3 separate regions of the Homo sapiens genome follow, and regions 1 and 3 are each linked to region 2. Evidence: fine-mapped expression QTL. A gene starts in region 2. Each other region holds a variant in brackets. All regions are shown on one strand. Distances are between the middles of the regions.

Region 1 (4,166 bases), 73 kb before region 2:
AAATGAGGAAGGGAGATGAGAGTTGAAAAACTACCTACTGGGACCATGTTTACTATTTGGGCAATGGGTACACTAGCATCCTAAACCTCTCCATTATGCAATATATCCATGTAACAAACCCATACATGTATTCCTTGAATCTATAGTAAAAGAAGAGGAACAGAGTTGTACTTGAGAATAGTAGTTAATGAGCATTGTTTTTCTAAATTGATGGTTTTAGAGCAGTCCACTAGCATAAGCCCATGTCATGTGACCAATGCCATGTGTTCTTTTTGTTTTGTATTTAAAAAACAAAAAAGTACTGCTGGGCACAGTGGCTCGCGCCTATAGTCCTTGCACTTTAGGAGGCCAGGGCAGGAGGACTGCTTGAGGCCATGAGTTCAAGACCTGCTTGGGCAACATACCAAGACCTTGTCTATAAATTAGCCAGGTGTGATGGCTAATATTGAGCGTCAACTTGATTGGATTGAAGGATGCAAAGTATCATTCCTTGGTGTGTCTGTGAGGGCGTTGCCAAAGGAGGTTAACACTTGAGTCAGTGGACTGGGAGAGGAAGACCCACCCTTAATCTGAGTGGGCACCATCACCTTGGCTGCCAGCACAGCTAGAAAAAGCAGAAGAGGGCCGGATGCAGTGGCTGACACCTGTAATCCTAGCACTTAGAGAGGCCGAGACGAGCAGATCACAAAGTCAGGAGTTTGAGACAAGCCTGGCCAATATGGTGAAACCCTCGTGTCTACTAAAAATACAAAAATCAGCCAGGCGTGGTGGTGGGCGTCTGCAGTCCCAGCTACTCTGGAGGCTGAGGCAGGAGAATCGCTTGAACCCGGGAAGCAGAGGTTGCAGTGAGCCGAGATCATGCCACTGCACTCCAGCCTGAGCAACAGAGCAAGATTCTGTCAAAAAAAGAAAGAAAGAGGAGAGGAGAAGAGAAAAGAAAAAGAAAAAGAAAAAGCGGAAGAAAGTGGAATGAACAGACTTGCTGAGTCTCCTGACCTTCATCTTTCTCCAGTGCTGAATGCTTCCTGCCCTCGGACACCTCAGCTTTTGGACTCCTGGACTTACGTCAGTGGTTTGCCAGGGGCTCTTGTGCCTTCTGCCACAGACTGAAGCTGCAGCTTTTCTACTTTTGAGGTTTTGGGACTCAGGATGGTTTTCTTGCTCCTCAGCTTGCAGGCGGCCTGTTATGGGACTTCACCTTGTGATCGTGTGAGCCAATACTCCTTTTTTTTTTTTTTTGAGCTGGAGTTTCGCTCTTGTCACCTAGGCTGGAGTGCAATGGCACAATCTCGGCTCACTGCAATCTCCACCTCCCGGGTTCAGGCAATTCTCCTACCTCAGCTTCCCAAGTAGCTGGGACTGCAGGCATGCACCACCATGTCCGACTAATCTTGTATTTTTAGTAGAGACGAGTTTTCACCATGTTGGCCAGACTGGTCTCAAACCCCTGACTTCAGGTAATCAGCCTACCTCAGTCTCCCAAACTGCTGGGATTATAGGCATGAGCCACCGCGCCTGGCCCAGTACTCCTTAATAAACTCCCTTTCATATATACATCTATGCTATTAGTACTGTCCATCTAGAGAACCCTGACTAATACACCAGGCATGATGGCATGCGCCTGTAGTCCTGGCTACTCTGCAGGCTGAGGTGGGAGGATCGCTAGAGCCCAAGAGTTGGAGTTTGAGGCTGCGGTGAGCTATGATCCAGCCACGGCACTCCAGCCTAGTCAAGAGAGATCTTGCTTCAAAAAAAAAAAAAAAAGTATGATCATCCCTTCTTGAAATCAGTGTAATTGGTAGTTTATATTCTTTTTTCATACCAAGTCTTCCATATCTAGGATGTATTTATCAATTGCAGTACATCTCAATTTGGACTAAGCCTCATTTCAAGTACTCACGAGCCCCATGTGGTGAGTGGCTATTGTGTTGGACAGTTCAGACATAGAAACCACTCTTAGCATTTCAGCATTAGAGTATTTTCTTTGTACTTTTTTTCTCTTTTCTTCCTTCCTTCTTTTTTTCTTTGAAAACATGTTTAATTGGGTAAGCTGGATTTTGAAGGAAGTGAGGAAAATTCATATTCTGAGAGTCTCTAGTTTTAAATTTTAAGTGTTTCCAGTACAGCTCTCCATTGTTTGTTTTTAAGTGTTTTTGTTTGTTTGTTTGTTTTTTGTGACAGAGTTCTGCTCTGTCACCCAGGCTGGAGTGCAGTGGCACAGTCTCATCTCACTGCAACCTCTGCCTCCCAGGTTCAGGCAATTCTCCTGCCTCCGCCTCCTGAGTAGCTG[G/A]GATTACAGGTGCACGCCACCATGTCCGGCTAATTTTTGTATTTTGTAGAGACGGGGTTTCACCATGTTGGCCAGGCTGGTCTTGAGCTCCTGACCTCAGGTGATCCGCCTGCCTCAGCCTCCCAAAGTGCTGGGATTACAGGCATGAGCCACCATGCCTGGCCCTATTTTTACTTTTTTAAGATGGGGTCGGGCTCTGTCACCCAGGCCGGAGTGCAGTGGTGCAATCTTGGCTCACTGCAGCCTTGACCTCCTGGCTCAAGCGATCCTCCCACCTCAGCCTCCCAAATATCTGGGACTACATATGTGTGCCACCACACCCGGCTAATTTTTGTATTTTTTGTAGATACGGCATTTCACTATGTTGCCCAGGCTGGTTTCAAACTCTTGAGCTCAAGTGATCTGCCCATGTTGGCCTACCAAAGTGCTGGGATTCCAGGCGTGAGCCACCGTGCCCTGCTGTTTGTTTGTTTTTAAAAACTCAGGTGTGGCCGGGTGCTGGTGGCTCACGCCTGGAATCCCAGCACTTTGGGAGGCCGAGGTGGGCGGATCATGAGGTCAAGAGATGGAGACCATCCTGGCCAACACTGTGAAACCCCTTCTCTACTAAAGATACAAAAATTAGCTGGCCGTAGTGGCACACGCCTGTACTCCCAGCTACTTGGGAGGCTGAGGCAGGAGAATCGCTTGAACTCGGGAGGCAGAAGTTGCAGTGAGCTGAGATCGCACTACTGCACTCCAGCCTGGGCAATAGTGAGAGACTCCATCTCGATAAAACAAAACAAAACAAAACTAGGTGCACAGATTCTTTTGGGAAGATAAAAAGGCAGGAGAAGCCAGACGTGGTGGCTCATGCCTGTAATCCCAGCACTTTGGGATCACAAGTTCAAGAGATCGAGACCATCCTGGCCAACATGGTAAAACCTTGCCTCTACTAAAAATACAAAACTTAACTTGGTGTGCTGGCGCGCGCCTGTAGTCCCAGCTACTCGGGAGGCTGGGGCAGGAGAATTGCTTGAACTTGGGAGGCGGATGTTGCAGTGAGCCGAGATTACACCACAGCACTCCAGCCTGGGCCGCAGAGCGAGACTCCATCTCAAAAAAAAAGAAAAAACGCAGGAGAATGTGTTGCAGGTGCTGCTGATGAACACTCATTTCCTTTTATTCATTTGTTCATTTCTTTTCTCTCTCTTTTTATTTTTTATTTTTTGAGACAGGGTCTCACTCTGTTGCCCAGGCTTTAGTACACGTAGCTATTTTTTTTCTCATTTTTTGTAGAGATGGGCCTCCCTATGTTGTCCAGGCTGGTCTTGAACTCCTGGGCTCCAGCAATCCTCCTGCCTCAGCCTCCCAAAGTGCTGGGATTACAGGCATGAGCCATTACACCTGACCCATTTTTTCTCCTAGCAGCAGTTACTGGACATCAACTATGGGCCAGGGACTGCAACTTGGGATAGCTTTACAGACATGTTGCCTGGCTTGTGAAGCCTACAATTTACCAGAAGAGCCAGACAAGTAATGACAATAAAATGTGATAAGTGTTGTGATAGGGGAAGAATGAAGGGCTCAGTGGCTGCCTGGGAGAATAATTTAAGCCATTTTGGGAGATAAGAGAAGGCTTTGGTTGTTGGGGGTGGAGGGAATGATGTCTAAGATGGAACCTAAAGATTAAGTAAAGAATGGCTAAGCAAAGGGGAGAAATAAGGGCTAGAGAATGCCAGAAAGAGTGGCTTTAAGGAATGCCCAGAGCCTTTTGGGGAACTGAAAGAAGTTATGTGTGGTTAGGGCCTCCAGGGTGAGGGGTGAGGCTGGTATTGTGCATTATTCTCTGGGCAGCCTAGTTAACAGTGGGAGTTGGGAGGCAGGATGTTGACAA
Region 2 (4,166 bases):
CCAACATCCCTGACTTCCTGAGGCACAGAACCAGCAGCCCCTGAGGACCTCAGATGTAAGGCCTAGGAGCTTGGGCTGGCTGAGTCTGAAGGGAAACAATGTCACCTCTAATGCCCTTGGTTTTGAAGCTCTGACACATGCAGACCAACTAGAGAATCTCAGAAGCAGCAGTGCCTACGTCTGGGGCTTCAGAGTGAGGTCTGGGGCAGAGCTGGGGTGGGGGAGTGAGGACGCTGACACTAGCCCAGCACCAAGCACTGTATTTGGATTTTCTTCCACGATCTTCTTTGACTGTCATGACCACCCTGGGTGGTTGGGGCTGTGTTCTGAGAAAACTACTGCCCCGACCCCTCCAAGGCAATTCAGGGTGCTCTGGGGCCTGCCTCAGCTGACAGCCTGCTGGTGCCCACCTCTGCAGACATCTGGCACTTAGGAATGGCAGGATGCCCCTATCTTTATCAGGAGCCCCTCCCTGGCTCAATTCTTCTGTATGTTTCTCTTCAGTACAGGAGGCTGCTGGTACAAATACTGCAGAAATGACACCAATAATGGGGCAGACACAACAGCGTGGCTTAGATTGTGCCCACCCAGGGAAGGTGCTGAATGGGACCCTGTTGATGGCCCCATCTGGATGTAAATCCTGAGCTCAAATCTCTGTTACTCCATTACTGTGATTTCTGGCTGGGTCACCAGAAATATCGCTGATGCAGACACAGATTATGTTCCTGCTGTATTTCCTGCTTCCCTGTTGAATTGGTGAATAAAACCTTGCTCTTTACATACAATGCCTGGTCCTCTCCTTTCACCCGTCTTTTAGGGGATGGGAGGAAAAGGGGGCTGGAGGGCAGAGTGTTCAGTGAGATGGGGCTGGCTCAAAAAGTCCAGAATACCCCATGCCATGGCACCAGCCTGGCACTGACTCTGGCCTCCTACCCATTCATTCAGCAAGCAAATAACGCCTGTTGCATGCCAGGCTTCGTGCCAGGCGCGGGGTTCTACTCTCATCTCTGCCACCTACTGGCGCAGGCAAGTGTCACTAGTTTCCTCGCTAGTAAAAGGGGGCTGCAGACACTACACTGCCGGGCTTTACTCAATACCCCCGCCGGACTTGGAGGGGAGCGCCGAGTTGGGATCCAGACCCTGCCGGCCGCTTCCTCTCTTCTCTGGCCGTCAGAAGGGTTGCCAGCGTTAGCAAATAAAAATACTGGACACCCAGTTAAATTCGAATTTCAGATAAACAATAATTTTATCTAATAAAATGTACCAAATATTGCATGAACATACTCGTAAGAAAGAAATTATTCACCGTTTTTCTGAAATTCGAATTTAACCGGGCGGTCCTGTATTATTTCTGGCCTTGGAGCATTCATTGCCCCTCTCTTGGGCTGCAAACACCTGGCCCTAAAACGGGCGATCATTTGGTCCTCAGGTCCTGCTTGGAGCTGACAGCGGGAAAGTCCCGATTTCAGGTCACTTTTCCCGGAGCTTTCGCGGAGAAAACCCGTAACCCACCCATGCCGGGCCGCAGCTCAGCCTGTTAACCCCGCCCCTAACGGGAGGCCCTGCCCACATCTCGCGAGAGCCGCGCGGCCCCCGAAGGCTCGCAGGCGGAAGTGAGACGCCGGAAGCGGTCGTTGCCATGGATCCTGGGGACGACTGGCTGGTGGAATCCTTGCGCTTGTAAATCGTACGGGGCTGGGACATGGGAGCTGGGCCTGGAGCTTGCCTGGCGGGCGGATGGGTGTGGGTGGAGGCACGTTGGGGATCCTGGTGCAGAGTGGGCCAGCTGTGGCCTCGGGGCTCGCCACCGTGGAGGACTCCGCCTGGGCCTAGGCCCCCATCTCTAGGAAATGGCTCCTTCCTGCGTGCGCGCGTTGTGAGATTACTAGTAAGAGCCGCGCTTGTGAAGACGCAGTGCCCAGTTAGTTTGCGCCAGCCTCTGAGTTCAGCTCAGAACACAGATGATCTCATTGATTCCTCACGTCAACCTTGGGAAATCTGGGTACCCTGGGACGTCCACACATGAGGACCGAGGCTCAGGGACATCAAGGGACTGGCCTGGTCCCAGAAACAGGGAGTAAAATGGGAAGTAAACTCAGTCCCACGTCTGCCTGACTCCAGAGTTTGGGCCACTGAACCATGCGGCTGCCATCTTGGAGTTCTTTGAGCTGTGAAGTGCTGTGCATCGTGTGATTCTGTGTCCCTTTTGTGCAGGTACCAGGATTTCTATGCATTCGACCTGTCAGGAGCCACTCGAGTCCTTGAATGGATTGATGACAAAGGTGGTATACCTTTCTAGCCCTGAAGGAGAGGGAATCTCACTCCTGAGCTGGGTTTCAGGAGCTAAGCCTAGAGGGACCCAACCCACTCTTCTGGGCACCTGAGAGTCACTTGTAGCAATTTGATGCCCCATCAGCACTAATATTCCTCTTATTAAGATCTCTGACCGGGAGCAGTGGTTCACGCCTGTAATCCCAGCACTTTGGGAGGCCGAGGCAGGCGGATCACCTGAGGTCAGGAGTTCGAGACCAGTCTGGCCAACATGGTGAAACCCCGTCTCTACTGAAAATACAAAAATTAGCCGGACGAGGTGGTGCACACCTGTGTACCAGCAGCTACTGGGGAGGCTGAGGCAGGAGAATCACTTGAACCCAGGAGGTGGAGGTTGCAGTGAGCTGAGATCACGACACTGTATTCCAGCGTGGCTAACAAAAAAAGTCTTCAGGCTGGGCACTTCAGGAGGCTGAGGCAGCGGGCAGATTGCTTGATCCCAGGAATTTGAGACTAACCTAAGCAAGGAAACCCTGTCTCTACAAAAAATACAAAAATTAGCCGAGCATGGTGGCTCACGCCTATAATCCCAGCTACTCTGAAGGCTGTGGTGGGAGGATCACTTGAGCCTGGCAGGTTGAGGCTGCAGTGAGCTGTGATCGGACCACTGCACTCCAGCCTGGCTGACACAGCGAGACCTTGTCTGAAAAAGACACAACCAGGTACTCAATTCCTCCATACAAGGCTGCACAGTGAAGGAATGTATCCTTACTTCGGGGGATTGCATGGTCTGCAATCTTTCTAACAATTTGTGACAGCTACCTCTGCTTCTTTTTCCAGGAGTCTTTGTTGCTGGCTATGAAAGCCTGAAAAAGAATGAAATTCTTCATCTGAAATTACCTCTCAGACTTTCTGTAAAGGAAAACAAGGTAACTTAAAATATAAATGCTGAGTATGTCAACTTTTATTTATTTATTAAACATTTGTGGAGCTCCTGTTATCTACCAGGTATTGTCCTGGATACTAGAAAGAGAGAAAGCGCTAGGCCTGCCCTTCTAGTCTAACAGAGGGAGGCACATATGCACAGAGATAAATGCTGTAGAATGTCTCGTGGTTTACAGAGGGCTATCAGAGGAGGAGGTCAGTTATACTTTATCAGAAATAGATTTAGGGAGCGATTAAGGATATAGAGGGCGGTCGAAATGCGTAGAGTGATTAAAGTCACCTAGTGAATGTGTGGTATATAAGGAGTGAGGAGAATATAGTGAGGACGGAACCTCAGGGAACACATTTAAGGGATGAGTACAGGAAGATGCACCCCCCCTCCCCAAAGAATACTAAGAAAGAACAGCCTCTGAGGTAAGAGGAATCTCAGAAAAGGTCAATGTTTCTGAAGCCAAGAGAAGAGAACTTCTCAAGAAAAAAAGAGTTAGTAGCTGTCTAGAGTTCCAATAAAATCATTGAGAGAAGAATTGAAGGCCAGGTGCAGTGGCTTACGCCTGTAATCCCAGCACTTTGGGAGGCCGAGTTGGGCGGATCATGAGGTCAGGAGTTCGGGACCATCCTGACCAACATGGTGAAACCCCGTCTCTACTAAAAATACAAAAATTAGCCAGGCATGGTGGCGCACACCTGTAATCCCAGCTACTCAGGAGGCTGAGGCAGGAGAATTGCTTGAACCCGGGAGGCGGAGGTTGTAGTGAGCTGAGATCGTGCCACTGCACTCCAGCCTGGGCAACAGCAAGACTGCATCTCAAAAAAAAAAATCATTCAGATGAGGAATTGAGTTCATTCATAAGACTGGCAATTGGGAAACTCTTGGTGACCTCTGCTACAGGATTTTTGCTGGTGGTGGTCAGGCCCAAAGACTAAAAATGAAGAGGAAGCAGAGTCAC
Region 3 (4,166 bases), 49 kb after region 2:
GTCAGGGACAGACAAACCCATGTGTCTGGGATGGTCCCCATTGGTTCCCATCTCAGGTGCCCAGTTAAAGATGAAAGGCACAAAGCCCCTGCTGCAAGGTGGATGGGAAGGGCTGTAATCACCTCTGACACCTGCTGAGACCTGAACCTCTGCTCTGTGCCTCCCCAACCAAATAACAACCTGAGGCCTCTCCTCAGCCCTCCATCACTCTCTCCTCCATAGTATCTGACTGGAGATCCAGAAGTTCATTACAAACTGGTCACCTCCACCGGAAGGGAAGCAACGACAGCTACAGCTGTAAAATAGGGAGACAGGTTTGCTTATTTTAATAGAAGGAATAAAATGCAGTTATTTTTTCAGGGCCAAAGAAAATCAAGCACTTTGCTTCAAGCAAAACTGAGATCTCCATGCAGAAAGAGACAGGTCTGGGTTTGAATCCTGGCTCCACCACTCAACAGCCATGTGAGTTTCCTGCACTTATATTTCCTATCTGTGAAATGACAATGCCAGCCACTCACAGGATTCTTAGTGAGACAAGCATGAAGGTGCCCAGGGCAGGGCTGGGTCACTGCAGACCTTCGGCGTCAGTCCCTTTCTCCAGAGGACAGCTCTACTCATTCACCCAGTCCCTGGAGTTTGTGATAGTCTCTGCCCCAAATCCCCTTCAGTTTCCTTCTCTTCTCTTCCCAGTCCTCTGAATCCTCCAGGCCAGATGCTCTGTAGTCACTGTCTTAATTCCATCTGCATCCCCAACTTCCAACACCCACTAGGAAGTGTCTCTTAGAATCATACATATGACAACGCTTAAAAACATGGGCTATGTCCTCACACACATAAGTTCAAATCTTGGTTCTGCCTGGTACAAAGGCACATGATCTTAAGGGATCTCTGGTGATGATAATCCTGCTTATCTTCCAGGGTGGTGAAGATTACATGAGTTTTCCATATTAGATGCTAAGCATATTTCCTGGCTTGCAGAAAGAGCTTGGAAAGTGCTAGCCATGGTGACTATCAGTTCTTTCTCACACGTGCCCCATCTGGGGCAGACCCCCATCACTGCACACCTGAAGACAAGGGAGCTTCCTGGCTGCTCTCCTGCCCCTAGCCTCTCACTACCCTAATCAAACCTACATCCTGTTGCCAAACTCCGCTTCCTTCCATGCCCCTTGGGGGTCTAGTTCAAGAACCCACTGAGGCAAAACATTCAGTCCAAGCCCTCACCCACCCTTCCCCCAAACTCTACTTCCTACCACTTCCTAAAAACACACTTGCCACTCCAATCTGCCAGCTCTCCTGTCACCCAAAGGTATAAACCACCGTGGCTCTGCCCTTCCAAGCCTCTGCTCAGCACAGCTCCTCTCAGCTGCCACACCCTACTCCCTTCTACAACCTCCTGCTTAGGTGTCACCTCCTCCAGGAAGCCTTCTCTGACCTGACCTTTCCTCTCCACGCTCCCTTCTCTGAACTTCCGTAGTTTTCATCAGCACAAAGGCAGCCATATCCTTCGAGCCCTGAGACAGCCCTCAAGGCACATCTGAAGTAAACATTTGGTCATCAAGTGAGTCTACTTTACAATGGAAAACCAGGAGGGAGACAGCGGTTAAACGGCAAGCCAGAATCCCAATACTTATTAGTAACACCGGAAAAAAATAGAGTAACTATTGCAAAGAGCTCAAGTTTGAAATTACGATTTTAAGAGCCCAGGATTACTTTATACCACAGAAAGTCCCTAGTTATTAGCTGGTTTACTTGTCATTTCTCTTGGTTTCATAAAAATAACCACTTTGGGGCCAGGCGTGGTGACTCACGCCTGTAATCCCAGC[A/C]CTTTCGGGGGCTGAGGTGGGCGGATCACGAGGTTAGGAGCTTGAGACCAGTCTGGCGAACATGGTGAAGCCCCATCTCTACGAAAAATAAAAAAATTAGCCGGGCGTGGTGGCGCACGCCTGTAATTCCAGCTACTCAAAAGGCTGAGGCAGGAGAACTGCTTGAACCCAGAAGACGGAGGTTGCAGTGAGCCAAGATTGTGCCACTGCACCCCAGCCTGGGTGACAGAGCGAGACTCCGTTTCAAAAAAAAAAAAAAAAAGAAAAAAGAAAAAAAAGTCATGTTGAAAATATCAGATTGTTTTCTCTAATTGCAAGAACCATTTGGATGTTTCTTGCACAACCACGTGAAGGTGCCAGGGGTCTCCATCTCCTCCCGTTTAACTTCCATCACCTTCCCAACCACTCCAAATAAACACAGAAGTAAAAACTGTGCTTACAATTCAAATGTAGCTCTAAGGCCCTCCTAGCACTTCTGGAGCTGACTTTGCACACAGTGAGGACACTAAAAGGCTGATGAACACGCTGACTGCCTGCAGACAGAGCAGAGGGATGGCGCTAGCCCCCCACTCTGCCTTGGACACCACCTTCTCCTCCTCCGAAACACCACACTCCTCTACCTTGGAAGGGTGCTCCCGCCCTCTCCCTATGAGGTTCTGCGTCTCACCACTGTCCTGAAGGGTCTGGGTCAAGTCTTCCACCAGGGCCGCTGCCTCCTCACTGCTTTCAGGCCGATGCTCTTGCAGCCAAGCCTGAATTTCCTTTGGCAGCATGGTTAACATCTGCTCCTTGGTGTGTACCTCTGGTCTCAGCCAGCGCCGGCAGAGCTCTCGGAGGCGGCCGAGTGCACCCTGTGGTCCCCTGGTCACCTCCTCCTGGGGGCCGCCCTTGCCAGCACTCTGGGGAAAGGGCTCAGACTCAGGGCCATCCTCCTGCAGCACAGCTTCTTGCACCCAGGAGTCATCCTCCAGGATCATGGTGGTGACCTCCTCCTCCTGTCTATCTTCCTCTTGAGGCACCTGGACCAAGGAGCTCAGCGGAGTGGTCACTCTCGGGATGTCTGCAGCCATCATCCACAGTCCTGGGGCAATCACTTAGGCTTCAAGCCTTGGACCTCAGTCTTCTCCAGCCAGGCTCTCAGGTAAGACACTTCCCTCCTCAAATATCAACAAGTAGTCCCGCTGAGAAACAAAAAAGAGAACCATAATCCATAGGTAGACTGTCCTAAAGCAATCTAACTCACAAAAGCCCAGGTCAGACCACCAAGTGGCCCTTACATATGCAAACCAACAGACGTTTCCTGTTCTTCTTAAAGAAAAAATGGCTTATTCCTGAAAACATCTCTCTGTGGTAAAAGAAGGCTGGGTGCAGTGTCTCATGCCTGTAATCCCAGCACTTTGGGAGGCCGAGGTGGGCGGATCACCTGAGGTATGGTGAAACCCCATTTCTATTAAAAATACAAAAATTAGCCGGGCGTGGTGGCGGGGGCCTGTAGTTCCTGCTACTTGGGAGGCTGAGGCAGGAGAATCTCTTGAACCCAGGAGGCGGAGGTTGCAGTGAGCACAGATCTCGCCACTGCACTCCAGCCCAGGCAACAGAGTGAGACTCCGTCTCAAAAAAAAAAAAAAAAAAGTATCCCAAGCACAAAAAATACAGCATTGTTCCTTCCAAAACACCAAAGAATGAGTATCAGAAATGCAAAGTCCCCGGGAAAAACCCATGACTGAAATACTGAGGACTCTCCTAAGTCAGTTTCGACTTGCACTGTGTGACCTTGACCTAACATACAACTTAGTCACCAAACTCGGTGACCACCTAATAAAGATAATAACACTCATGTTTCTGTTTTTATGGGGGCATCTTAAGGATCAGCAATGGATCAGATGTCAAAGCACTCTGAGCTTCTTTGGAAGAAAGGCAATATCTCAACTGCATTATTACCATACTTTAAGTATGAAGTTTAAAACATGCATATACTCTCCAATCCAGCCTCGGCCCCTCAGTACTTTATCTTAAAAAAATAACCAAAAAATCGAGTCCTTAAAAATCCAGCAGCAGGGAATGGCTAATAAACTATGACACACCCATATAGCAGCATGTATTAGAAACTGTGCTATAGGCTTGGCGTGGTTGCCTGTAATCCCAGCACTTTGGGAGGCCTCGGCAGGCGGATCACTTGAGGTCAGGAGTTCGAGACCAGCCTGGCCAATATAGTGAAACCCCGTCTCTACCAAAAATACAAAAATTAGCCAGGCATGGTGACGGGCGCCTGTAATCCCAGCTACTCAGGAGGCTGAGGCAGGAGAATTGCCCGAACCTGGGAGGAGGAGGTTGCAGTGAGCC

The links. PIP is the estimated chance that this variant, and not a neighbour inherited with it, causes the effect.
Region 1: its variant is the best candidate, but not a certain one, in a credible set for the expression of WDR73 in whole blood (TOPMed, PIP 0.59).
Region 3: its variant is the best candidate, but not a certain one, in a credible set for the expression of WDR73 in tibial artery (GTEx, PIP 0.69).

The regions. Positions count from the first base shown.
Region 1 is chr15:84,725,090-84,729,255 of GRCh38, reverse strand. No RefSeq gene overlaps it. Among named protein-coding and RNA genes, the nearest start is that of SEC11A, 11 kb to the right of the region's middle. The variant G/A (reference allele first, on the strand shown) is at 2,291.
Region 2 is chr15:84,651,748-84,655,913 of GRCh38, reverse strand. It overlaps WDR73 (WD repeat domain 73), which reads left to right and starts at 1,631. Exons shown (of 8, transcript NM_032856.5): 1 at 1,631-1,680; 2 at 2,215-2,282; 3 at 3,112-3,200. The coding sequence starts at 1,640. NMB (neuromedin B) reads left to right here. Exons shown (of 3, transcript NM_021077.4): 3 at 505-782. The coding sequence ends at 540. RefSeq lists enhancers at 1,645-1,884, 1,311-2,278.
Region 3 is chr15:84,602,658-84,606,823 of GRCh38, reverse strand. ZSCAN2 (zinc finger and SCAN domain containing 2) reads right to left here. Exons shown (of 3, transcript NM_181877.4): 2 at 2,491-3,004. The coding sequence starts at 2,896. It overlaps LOC105370947 (a long non-coding RNA gene), which reads left to right. Exons shown (of 4, transcript NR_186225.1): 2 at 361-462; 3 at 2,839-2,964. Among named protein-coding and RNA genes, the nearest start is that of ZSCAN2, 3.7 kb to the right of the region's middle. RefSeq lists an enhancer at 2,772-3,400. The variant A/C (reference allele first, on the strand shown) is at 1,824.